3 linked regions of the Homo sapiens genome follow. The protein of the gene in region 1 interacts with the protein of each later gene in a pairwise test. Each region holds a gene or a part of one and is shown in the gene's direction. Other genes may lie near its edges.

Region 1 (4,303 bases):
AGCTTTGGGCTCCTGCAGGGCCCCAGAACCGTGGGATCACGGCCACGAGGAGAGGCCCCGAGGCCAGGACTTCCTCTAATGGACACAGGGCCTTTGAGCACCGGGTGACTGGGGCCCCACTCCCCAGCAGCCATATGTGTTTGCGAGCGTTTTCAGTCGGTCCGCATCCACCCGGTCCCTTCAGCCAGAACCCTAGGAGCCCCGCCCCGTCCTCCCGGGGCTCCTTTCTCACCCGCGTCCCTGCCGCGGTGGATACGCACCCCTCAGGCTGGCTGCCCAGCGCGGTTTCCACGCCCAATCTGCCGCGACCCCATCACTCCACCGCACCTACCCCTGACTCCTGCTTGTCCTGCAGCCTGGGCTCCTCCCTCCGCTGGCCAAGTCACGCCAAGCAGTTTGCGGTTACAGGACGGGTGGGGGCCTCTGCATATGTGCAGAGTACGGAGGGCCCAGGGACGCGAGGCTCCCCGATGGGCAACCTCCCCTGCCTTTGCTTTTCCCCAGAGCCCCCTCCTGGCCTGCGTTCGGCATCTTCTCGGGTCGTCATCGCCCTCTGCGGTGCCTGCGCTCGGGGTGAGGGTTTTTGTCGGCTTTTGTTACATCACCGATGTAACAGTGCCTGGACGTAGTAGGTGCTCAATAAATATGTTGTTGAATGCGCTTCAGTCTCCCCGAATGCTTGTCCCTTCCGGGCGCTCTCATCGCTCTCCTACCTTCCCCGCTACACAGCTCGAAGGTCCCCTCCTCCGGGAAGCTCACCCTGTCCCACTTGCCAGGAAGAATCAAGCAAATTTTCTGAGTGAGACACCTTGTCCTCACTCAGGCGTCCTGCAGGCGGCTTCAGCGAGTTGTTGGGGCAGATGCGCCGGGAGCTCCCGAGGGCAGGGACGGCGTCTTATTTCTCTTTTTAAGTCCACAGGGCTTGCACAATAGATGCCCAAAAAATGAGAGTGAATTTAGAATGAGTGACCGAGTGGCTGAAGATTGCCTCCTTCCTTTCCCAGTCTGTCGGTTACTTACCCTGTGACAAGCCCTTGGGACGGGCAGTCGCCCCTCTCTGGCCTATGACTGCTGGCTGCCCCCACTGACACCTTATACCCTTGATCTGATCATAAATAAGAAGCAGCCCGGGGACCTCGAGACTGAAACTGATTTAGAGACTTCTGGGAGCTTTTTTCACTTCCCTCCTCCCATCCGGCCAGGACAGATCCCCGCCCAGAAAGGGGCTGTTGACTGCAGCGGGCTGCGCGCCCAGAACTGGGACTGGGATCGCGGCGGGGCGGGGCGGGCGCGGGCCCAGGGAGAGGCGGGGCCGGGGGCGGGGCGGGCACGGGGCCCCGGCCGGGAGGTGAGCGCAGCTGTCGTTCAGCTTGTGGGTAGCACTCGGGCCGAGCCATGCAGGCGGCGCGCGTGGACTACATCGCTCCCTGGTGGGTCGTGTGGCTGCACAGCGTCCCGCACGTCGGCCTGCGCCTGCAGCCCGTGAACAGCACCTTCAGCCCCGGCGACGAGAGTTACCAGGAGGTAAGTTTACGCCGCCCCAGACCGCAGCCACGCGCGCCCCAAGTCCCCGCACTACCCCCTCTCCCCTCGAGAGCCTGCACTTTCCCACGTGCCTCTCAGACCCCTTCTCTCCCCGCGCAGCCCTTTCCCGTCTCCCCTCTCCCCTTTTCCCCCACCCTCCCAGGCCCGTGGCCCGCGTCCCCTCCTGTCTGGGAACCTGGGGGCCGGGAAAACTGAAGAGATCAGAGTGAAGCGAGCGTGGGGAAGGGGAGGAAGGGCGCAAGACCGCCTGCGGGGTGAGGGGCTGAACGCTGAGCGGGCAGGGCGGCGCGGGGGAGGGGTAAGGACAGGGGCATTCGTCTCGGGGTAATCCTGGCGCGCGAGGTGCGGGGATGCTGAGGGGTGCCCCGAAGTTTTCGACCGTCTGAGATTCCAAGATGGGGCGCTCTCTTTCCGGGGCTGAGTGGCCTAGGAAAGTTTGGCAGAAACTGAGTAGAGTCTCCCGAGTCGGTCTTCGCAGCACCCCTCCTCCCCAGCCCCGGCCTGCAGGGTGGGAGTCTCAGCTGGAAGGCTGCAGGGCTTGGGGAAGCGGTGTGGGTCACTTCCCCTCTAGCGCAGAGAACCCACAGCTGCTTGCGCTTGTTCCAGGGAAGGAAGGTGGCCTCCGTCAGCCCATCTCACACTGTTGTCCTGAGGACCCCCTTGCATTGACAGTCAGCTTCTCTGTGTCCCCTGGTCCTAGACTGGCCCATTCCTGTTCCCCCACGCCCCTCTCTCTACCTCACACCTTTAAGCCCTGAATTTCTGGCCTAGGGCAGTCACTCCCGGCTTCCCCGCCCTTTCCCTACTCTGCTGACCCTTGGCAGGATTCTGCACCCCACAAACAGGGCCAGGGCTCCCCAGACCTCCCTGCCCAGACAAACAAAGCTGCAGAATCTCCCAGCCCGTCTCAGGTCTGGTCACGCCTGCTCTGGCCCCGGGAGCCCACCTGTATCAGTTCCTTGTGTTGGGTCAAAGATTCTGGGGCCAGTGGACCAGGATGAGGTCCATTTATTCAGAGCCAGGCGCCCATCTCAGGACTTTGGCCCCCGGCGGCCTCTCCCTGTGTCAAGTTCTCCAGATATGGGACAGATCAGGGCAAAGCAGGGCCTCTTGGAGGGAATCCTGATCCAGTGTGAGGTGCCCAAGCGCCAGTGACAGGGAGTCTAATAATAACCCCTGACGACCCGGCTGCCATCAGGCCCAGGCAGATGGTGCCTGCCCTACCAGAGGGAGGGGAGCATCAGGACCCCTTCCTGGGGTTCAGTGGGCACTCAGGAGCAAGACGGCAGTCGGTGGACCCACCCCCCTCCCCCAGAGCCCAGCCTGTGGGAGTCTGTGTTCCCTGAGAATGTGGCTGCCTGGGGATAGCTCCAGGGAATCTTCCTCTCCCAGAGAATGCATGAAAAGAGGCGGATATGATTTCAGAAACAGCCGTGTGTGTGTGTGTGTGTGTGTGTGTGTGTGTGTCCCCATCCCAAACCCTGTGCCCCACATCCCACACCCGGGGTCTCCAGCCATAGTTTTCTCCTCTCCACTGGAGGAAATCTAAACTTTTCATTGGGTCAAGAAGACCCCTAGGTGGGGGTAGGGATGGTAAGGGGACTCCCTCACCCTGATGGCCCCAGAGACAGTTCCTATCAGCCCAACAGCTGTGGCTGGTGGATCCTGGGCCTGCCCACAGCCCCCTCAGTCCCATGGGCAGGTGGCAGTTGAGCCAGATGAACCTACCTCCAGCCTCTGCCCCTCCTCCCAGGATTCTGGCCCCGGCTCACTTTGTGCTGGGCATCAAATGGTTCCAGAGGGTGTCCCTTCCCATCGGCCACTGCTCCTGGGCAGCTGACACCAGCCCTGCCCACTGGCTCCTGGTCCCGCTCACCCCCTCACCACCACTCAGATCGCTGAGTAGGAGATGAGCGTGGTGGGCCAGGACCGGAAGTCTGGCTCTGGGTGTTATTTAAGGTGGCTCCTGTTTTTGGTAAGTTCCCCTGTTGTGACCACAGGTCTCTCCTGGATGTCTTCTTTCCTCCTGAGCACCAGTCACTAACAGAGTCAGGTGGACCGTCGGTCATCCCAGTCTTCAGCAAGCTTGACTGGAGCAAGTGCTATGCCAGGCGTGGGGTGACCGTGGTAACCAAGGCAGCAGGTCTTCAGGAGAAATTGCTGGGGATTTTCTGCGGCTGGGCTCTGGGCGCAGTGCTATGGCAGACACCAAGCAGTTTGAGGTGGGGCTCTGCCCTCCAGTTGGCTGGGGTGGATTCCCAGTTCTTTCCATGTGTGACCACGGGTAGGTGTCTTAACCTCTCTGAGCCTTGTTCCCTTCATCTGCAAGAATTAGATGAGATATTCCACATATCATGCCTAGTACAGAGAGTCCCATAGCACATAACAGGAGCCAGTGACACAGATCATTCAATGGAGTGGCTGAGAGGTTCAGGAGTGTGTCTCAGGACAGTACCCTGCTGGGGAATGGAGAGGAAGGAGATCTCTTCCACAGACTCTGATTGGGGGAGACTGAACAAAACGCCTGCAGAAAGGGCTTCAGCTCATGCCCCACATGTTCAAATGCACAGTGCTGGCTGTGTGGGGTGTGGGGGGTGGGTGCGTGTGCATCAGAGACTAAGCAAGGATGGAAACAGGCAGGTGCTGGCCTTAGGATGTGGGTGGTGCGGGGGATCTCAAAGGCAAGGGGGTTCTTGGAAGTGCAGAGATGGTGAAGAGCAGGTCACCTGGTGAGCTGGGATTTCCTGAGCAAGTTCAG
Region 2 (3,647 bases), on another chromosome or scaffold:
GACAGTGGCCATTATACTATTGTAGCTCAAAATGAAGATGCTGTGAAGAGCTATACTTTTGAACTGTTAACTCAAGGTATGTAAAGGGAGTATAAAGATAATGCTAGCTCTGTAGATGAGTGTCTTCCAAGGAAAGCCTGGCACTTTTCTCCCCGGTCATGGAAGAAAAGCAGCACTTAGGGGAGAAGCAGTGTCTGCATATGTCACATATCGGGAATACCTCTGCTGGACTCATGAATTCAGGTATTTCTGGGAGGTTCTGGGTTACTCTAGAGTAGGCGAGGAATCCCTAGGCTCCACCAGCTAGCTTTATTTTTGTAGAGATGGAGTCTTGCCATGTTGCTCAGGCTGGTCTCCTGGGTTCAAGCTATCTTCCCACCTTGGCCTCTCAAAGTACTGGGATTACAGGTGTGAGCCACTGCACCTGGCCTCCACCAGCTTACTTAGCACCTGCTTCTCAATCTGAGAAGAGAGAAGCAGATGACCTTAGATTGTTCTGGAGAGTTTTGCTACAAGTTTTCCTTATAGACATTGTACAGTGGTCCTTACCAGAAGGGAGTGCCCAAGTCTGTTTACATTCAGGCTCAGCACCTATCCAGAGTCCCAGCCATGAGCCAGGTGCTGTCTGAGGTGCGCTCATGTGATCCTCACAGTAAAACCTGTGATACAAGCAACACCGTATATCTAATTTATTTGACCACAGATTTAGAAAAGAATCTTTAAAACCTAATAACATACCACAGATGCATTTTGGTAAATGCTGCTTTAGATTATACTTTAGCTGAATCCATTAGTTGAATCCTAAGCTATAATATAATTTTAAGAACCTCCTTGCCTTTCAAGCCAAATAACCAAGGGACTTTCTCTCTCTCTTTCCCTCCCTCCCTTCCTTCCTTCCTTCCTTCTTCTCTCCCTCCCTTGTTATCTCTTTTCCTTTCCTTTCTCTCCTTCCTTCCCTCTTCCCTTTTTCCTTTCTCTCCTTCCTTCCTTCCTTGCTTCCTTCTTCCCTCCCTCCTTTGTTCTCTCTTTTCCTTTCCTTTCTCTTTTTCTTTCCTTCCTTCCTTCCTCACTCACTCTTTTCTTTTCCTTTCTCTCCTTCCTTCCTTCCTTCCTCCCTCCCTCACTCTCTCTTTTCTTTGCCTTTCTCTCCTTCCTTCCTTCCTTTTCCTCCCTCCCTCCCTCCCTTGTTCTCCCTTTTCCTTCCTTCCTTCTTTCCTTTCTTCCTTCCTTCCCTCTTCCCTCACTCTCTCTTTTCCTTTCTCTCCTTCCTTCCTTCCTTCATTCTCCCCTCCCCTCCCCCCTCCCCTCCCCCTCCCCTCCCCCCTCCCCCCCTCCCCTCCCCTTCCCTTCCCTTCCCATTTTTCTTCTCACCATGTTGCCCAGGCTTGCCTCAAACTCCTGGGCTCAAGTGTTTCTCTTCCACCTCAGCCTCCCAAGTAGCTGGGGCTACATGTGTGAGGCATCACAACCATGGACTTTTCACTTTCTTCACTCCAGGTTAAAAACATCACAGGGATAAATCTCAAAACACCAAAACTGTGAAAATGCTGCTAACCATGTGGGTCTGTCTAAACTGGAGTGTTACTTGTACAACTGGTTTCAGCCCCTCCGGAGTGTTTTGAATGCCATGTAGATGAGTTGTGAACTCATATTCCACTTTGTAGTCTCATATGTTCTGGGACACGAGCTATTCCATTCTGACTTCTTTCTGCCTCTTGCAGTTCCTTCATCCATTCTGGACTTGGTCGATGATCACCATGGCTCAACTGGGGGACAGACGGTGAGGTGCACAGCTGAAGGCACGCCGCTTCCTGATATTGAGTGGATGATATGCAAAGATATTAAGAAGTATGGAAAACAGATGTGTCTTCTTCTTTCGTGGTCAGAATATTTCTCCCTTGACACAAATGATGTCAAATACATTTTACTTATTGACTATAAGATAGGGTTTTGGGTGTGATAGCTTCAGGGTGTGTATCTTTTGTCATGAATAGCTGTGAGAAGAAGGTCCAGGGCTCTCATTAGACCTTCAAAATGTCTCCAATCTAAAAACAAGAGTGAATTTTAAGAACCACTGTTCTAAGAAGATTTTTACTACCCTGGCTCACATATCTTATTTGGTGAACTTTGTTTGGTAGTCGGACTGCATGTAAACATAAATGTGACTGCTTAGTCCCTTATCTGCCCACCTGCTGTTTGGTGGGTTAATTCGCCATTCCCTCCTCCCTCCCCCGAGTCCTCAGCCTTCTTAAATGGGCACATGAGCAATGTGTTTACACTTCATCCATGGTAACTGGTTGTGTTCAGAAGCCTCAGTTGTTTCTTCCTCTAGACAGAGACTCCTCATCTTAACTTCTAGGGCTAAGAACAGACTTGGATGTTGACTGGGGTTTCTAGTAGATTCCAGTGTGGAGCAGGATTCTAGGTCTTATAACTCAATCTGAGGATCATCGCAACCCTAGTGACACCCTAGGGGCTCTTCCCAGTGTGAGTGTTGAGAAGGGAGGGCTCCAGGCCTTTTTGAAGGGGTGGGAGATTGAGATCATTAAATATGGTTGAAGTTGAACTGTTCAGTTTGCTCATAGGTTCAAGATTGGGGAATGGTAGTCATATTTTATTAAACTTGATTATCTCTGCCTGCTATGTAAACACTTAGCTTTCAGTTGTTCATGTGTGAGTTATTCCCTCTTCAGCACATGCAGACAAGTTTTAATGTTCATCTGCATGTAAAATAAATCAGTGTGTATTGCCCCGAAATGCAGACAAGGTCCCAACTCCTTGCCATCTTAGAGTGTTCCCGTGGCTCCACTCATTGCCATGACTCTCAGGAATTGGCCCTATACTTAGGCCCTTTTTCTCTCTAGATGTAATAATGAAACTTCCTGGACTATTTTGGCCAACAATGTCTCAAACATCATCACGGAGATCCACTCCCGAGACAGGAGTACCGTGGAGGGCCGTGTGACTTTCGCCAAAGTGGAGGAGACCATCGCCGTGCGATGCCTGGCTAAGAATCTCCTTGGAGCTGAGAACCGAGAGCTGAAGCTGGTGGCTCCCAGTGAGTTCCTCAACAGTCAGGACAACTCATCAGCTGAGCCGCATCTGCCCCAGGCGGAACTTTGAATCCCAGATAGGGGTTATATAGAAATGAAGGTCCCAAGGCAGAAATTCAGTTATGAATGCTCTTAAAGTCATGTGGGACTTTGTTTTATTTTGTTTTGTTTTTTGAGACAGAGTTTTGCTCTGTGGCCCAGGCTGGAGTGCAATGGCACAATATTGGCTCACTGCAACCTCTACCTAGGACGTTGTTTTAGATTCAGATCCAAAACTGCATTTTTGCAGAGGCCCCTCAACATTTTGCTTGTCTAATAATATAGCTACAGTCTCTACTTTGAATGTCTGTGTATGTGGATGGAGTGTGGGGAAGGATCTTCTGTCTCATTGCTCCTTAAAAGATAGATGAAGCCAAAAGCAATATAAGCAAAATGCAACTTACAAAATAAGCTTTATAATAAAGCATATGAAGTAGAGGTGTCTGCCCATATAGTAGCTGTCAATTGCATTTATCCTATTCAAATTCTGTCCACAAGGTTACTGTTGGAGCAACTTTGGAGAAAATACTGAGTTCTCCTGATTGAATTTTGTCC
Region 3 (3,647 bases), on another chromosome or scaffold:
ATCTATTTTCCTACCTATCCATCATCTATCTATCTATCTATCTATCTATCTATCTATCGTCTATATATATATATTTATCATCTATGTATCATCTGTCTTGCCTGCATTGGGAAAACAAAAATAAAATTAGGATTAGTATGTGACTTTATATAGGAAGAATAAGTTCTTCCAGAAAAAGGTTTGTATTTAGACAGAGACAAATCTCTGATACACAAGGAAGAGAGGCCACTAAGTTCTGTCAAAAGTGTGTGCTTGCCAATGGTGTCTTAGATTCCCAAAGCAAACGGAGTGTAGGAAGGCAACACACAATCACTAAAATAAAGTGATCTTTCATAAGTTGACAACACGGGAAGTATTCTTGTAAAGGTTTTCTAAGAAACCTAAGGCTGAGTGACCTACCACTTTTGGCAAATTGGTTATCAATTTAAAGGAGCTCCAAACATTAGCACTCAGGGCCAGCTTGGATTGGACACTTCTTAGGCTTACATGTTCCTCTAATGTTTATGAACTATCCCTTATATTGTCAACAGAAAAAGGTGATTCAAAACAAAACAAACACACAAACAAAACAGAAAAATATGGTTCAAAACGAAACAAACACACAAACAAAAAAGACCCATAAAATAAGACTTTGTGTATGTATGTAAATAACAGCAAAAGCAAAGAAACAGCAAGGGAATAAACAGATATGGAAAAAAATATTTATCAAATTGTGTATCTCTAAAGTGAACTATTTATTGACATAATAAAAAGCTTATGTCTAATTACCAAATGGTGCATTTCAAAACCAAAGGTTATATGACTTAATATATAAAGATACAGGTGAAATAACCTTACACAAAGACCTAAGTTTAAGTGCCTTCTATATAAAGACCTACATGATTACAAATCCTAGGACAACTACATAAATTCAGCAACAAGAGCTCAGTAAAATTAGCCAGAGTGAGAAAATTATTGAGAATGACTCTCATGCTAGTACATGGGAAGGACAGAATGCGGGCACGAGGGGGTCCAGTGAGTGACCCTGTTGATCAGAGCATCTCCTGGAATGTTATCAAATAAGGAGTCTTCAAAATTATCTTGGTGAAGCCTCTAGAAATATGAAACATGGTGAGACTAAATACATAAAATTTTTTTTAAAAAGCACAAAAGCTGGCTGGGTGTGGTGGCTCATGCCTGTAGTCCCAGCACTTTGGGAGGCCGAGGCAGGCTGATCAGGAGATCGAGAACATCCTGGCTAACACAGTGAAACCCCGTCTCTAGTAAAAATACAAAAAATTAGCCGGGCATGGTGGCGGGTGCCTGTAGCCCCAGCTACTCGGGAGACTGAGGCAGGAGAATGGCGTGAATCCAGGAGGCGGAGCTTGCAGTGAGCTGAGATTGCGCCACTGCACTCCAGCCTGGGCAACAGAGTGAGACCCCGTCTCAAAAAAAAAAGAAAAAAAAAAAAAAAAAAAAAGCACAAAAGCTAAACAAATTGCTTACTATAGTAAGGGATAGTTATGCTAGGCAGATACATTTTCTCTGAGCAGAAGACTATTCATTTTATATGGAGTTTTTAGAAAGTGTGGAGTTTAGGGATTGAAAACCTTGCAGCTTCTGAGAGCTGGTTGACATCACCTGTAGCAATACGATTACTCACATGAGACTGTTGATTAGTTGGCACTCATTTATTGAAGTGATTCTGATCCTGCCTGAGTGATTATCAGAAGTAAGGGCTGACAGTGCTTGCTTGGCATCCAAACACATGTTCACTGAGGCAAGTTGTTGATTGACTGACAGGTTTAGCACTGGTTCTGGTGGTTCCTTGTTGCCATGGCTACAGAACAATGAGTCTTTTCCTAAATTTATGGAAATGACTTTATTCTCACAATTTGGGAAATATTGGCCCAGACCAAATATTTTGTGATTACAAAATTCTGTGAAGGGGTTGTCCCAGAGCCTGACAAATTTTTCTCTCACTCTGAAATACAAAATACATTTTATTCTCCATCTAGAAGGAAAAGATAAGCCAGGAATTTAGGAACAAATTCTAGTCTTTCCTTTCAAGAGATGGGTTAGGGGAGATTTCATTCTTCCTGGATATGTCCACTAGAGGTTACTAACTCAAAGGCCCTCAGGTTTCAGATACAGATCATTCATGATTCATGAGAAGAGTGAGATTTAAGGTATAATATAGAGTTATGCAGGAAACAGGAGAATGCAGATTCTTCTAAAGAAGTCCATGAAATTTACATTGAAAACACTCTGCTGGCCAAAAACGACTTGTCTATGAGCTGGACTTGCCTACAGACAATGGCTGCATCAAAAGAAAAGTTTTGTTAGTTTATTTCTTAATAATTTATTCTATCCCATTATCACCATTTAACCCTCACTGGAAATAAAGTTTTATTTGGGTGTTTTCTTTTTCTGAACATGTAGAACCGAGTCCCATTCACAGAATGACATCTATTTATAATGCTGATGTTGGAAGAAAAGATCATTTTTATAGGTTCAAGTATGTCACATTAGGCTTGTAATAAGATTAAGTTTGGGGACATAATTGTCCAGGTAAGACAATGATGTATCTTTATTTGTGTAATAGTGTGCATTTTTAAAAAAGCATTAAATGCTGTAAATCATGAAGGATGCAAAGATGACTGTGTCTCTGGTAATTAATAGGCAAGTTGTTATTCCTAGCAGAAACCTTGGATTCATGCTCAAATGATTTTTCTCATCACAGGCTGTGAGCCCATTCCTGTGCGCTATCTTGAGTGGAGCAACATCGAATCCATTATAGCCATCGCCTTTTCATGCCTGGGAATCCTTGTTACCTTGTTTGTCACCCTAATCTTTGTACTGTACCGGGACACACCAGTGGTCAAATCCTCCAGTCGGGAGCTCTGCTACATCATCCTAGCTGGCATCTTCCTTGGTTATGTGTGCCCATTCACTCTCATTGCCAAACCTACTACCACCTCCTGCTACCTCCAGCGCCTCTTGGTTGGCCTCTCCTCTGCGATGTGCTACTCTGCTTTAGTGACTAAAACCAATCGTATTGCACGCATCCTGGCTGGCAGCAAGAAGAAGATCTGCACCCGGAAGCCCAGGTTCATGAGTGCCTGGGCTCAGGTGATCATTGCCTCAATTCTGATTAGTGTGCAACTAACCCTGGTGGTAACCCTGATCATCATGGAACCCCCTATGCCCATTCTGTCCTACCCAAGTATCAAGGAAGTCTACCTTATCTGCAATACCAGCAACCTGGGTGTGGTGGCCCCTTTGGGCTACAATGGACTCCTCATCATGAGCTGTACCTACTATGCCTTCAAGACCCGCAACGTGCCCGCCAACTTCAACGAGGCCAAATATATCGCGTTCACCATGTACACCACCTGTATCATCTGGCTAGCTTTTGTGCCCATTTACTTTGGGAGCAACTACAAGATCATCACAACTTGCTTTGCAGTGAGTCTCAGTGTAACAGTGGCTCTGGGGTGCATGTTCACTCCCAAGATGTACATCATTATTGCCAAGCCTGAGAGGAATGTCCGCAGTGCCTTCACCACCTCTGATGTTGTCCGCATGCATGTTGGCGATGGCAAGCTGCCCTGCCGCTCCAACACTTTCCTCAACATCTTCCGAAGAAAGAAGGCAGGGGCAGGGAA

What was found.
Region 2: the proteins of TTYH2 (region 1) and PDGFRA come close enough for resonance energy transfer, tested with the Homo sapiens proteins (one large-scale study listed by BioGRID).
Region 3: the proteins of TTYH2 (region 1) and GRM1 come close enough for resonance energy transfer, tested with the Homo sapiens proteins (one large-scale study listed by BioGRID).

Annotation. Positions count from the first base shown.
Region 1 is NC_000017.11:74,212,193-74,216,495, forward strand, and holds the start of TTYH2 (protein tweety homolog 2), read left to right. Parts: upstream 1-1,378; 5' UTR 1,379-1,395; coding exon 1,396-1,524; intron 1,525-3,437; exon of another isoform or gene 3,438-3,454; coding exon of another isoform or gene 3,455-3,520; intron 3,521-4,303. UniProt on the Homo sapiens protein: Calcium-independent, swelling-dependent volume-regulated anion channel (VRAC-swell) which plays a pivotal role in the process of regulatory volume decrease (RVD) in the brain through the efflux of anions like chloride and organic osmolytes like glutamate.
Region 2 is NC_000004.12:54,270,673-54,274,319, forward strand, and holds part of PDGFRA (platelet-derived growth factor receptor alpha isoform 1 precursor), read left to right. Parts: coding exon 1-76; intron 77-1,721; coding exon 1,722-1,848; intron 1,849-2,864; coding exon 2,865-3,058; intron 3,059-3,647. UniProt on the Homo sapiens protein: Tyrosine-protein kinase that acts as a cell-surface receptor for PDGFA, PDGFB and PDGFC and plays an essential role in the regulation of embryonic development, cell proliferation, survival and chemotaxis.
Region 3 is NC_000006.12:146,396,047-146,399,693, forward strand, and holds part of GRM1 (metabotropic glutamate receptor 1 isoform alpha precursor), read left to right. Parts: intron 1-2,722; coding exon 2,723-3,647. UniProt on the Homo sapiens protein: G-protein coupled receptor for glutamate. Ligand binding causes a conformation change that triggers signaling via guanine nucleotide-binding proteins (G proteins) and modulates the activity of down-stream effectors.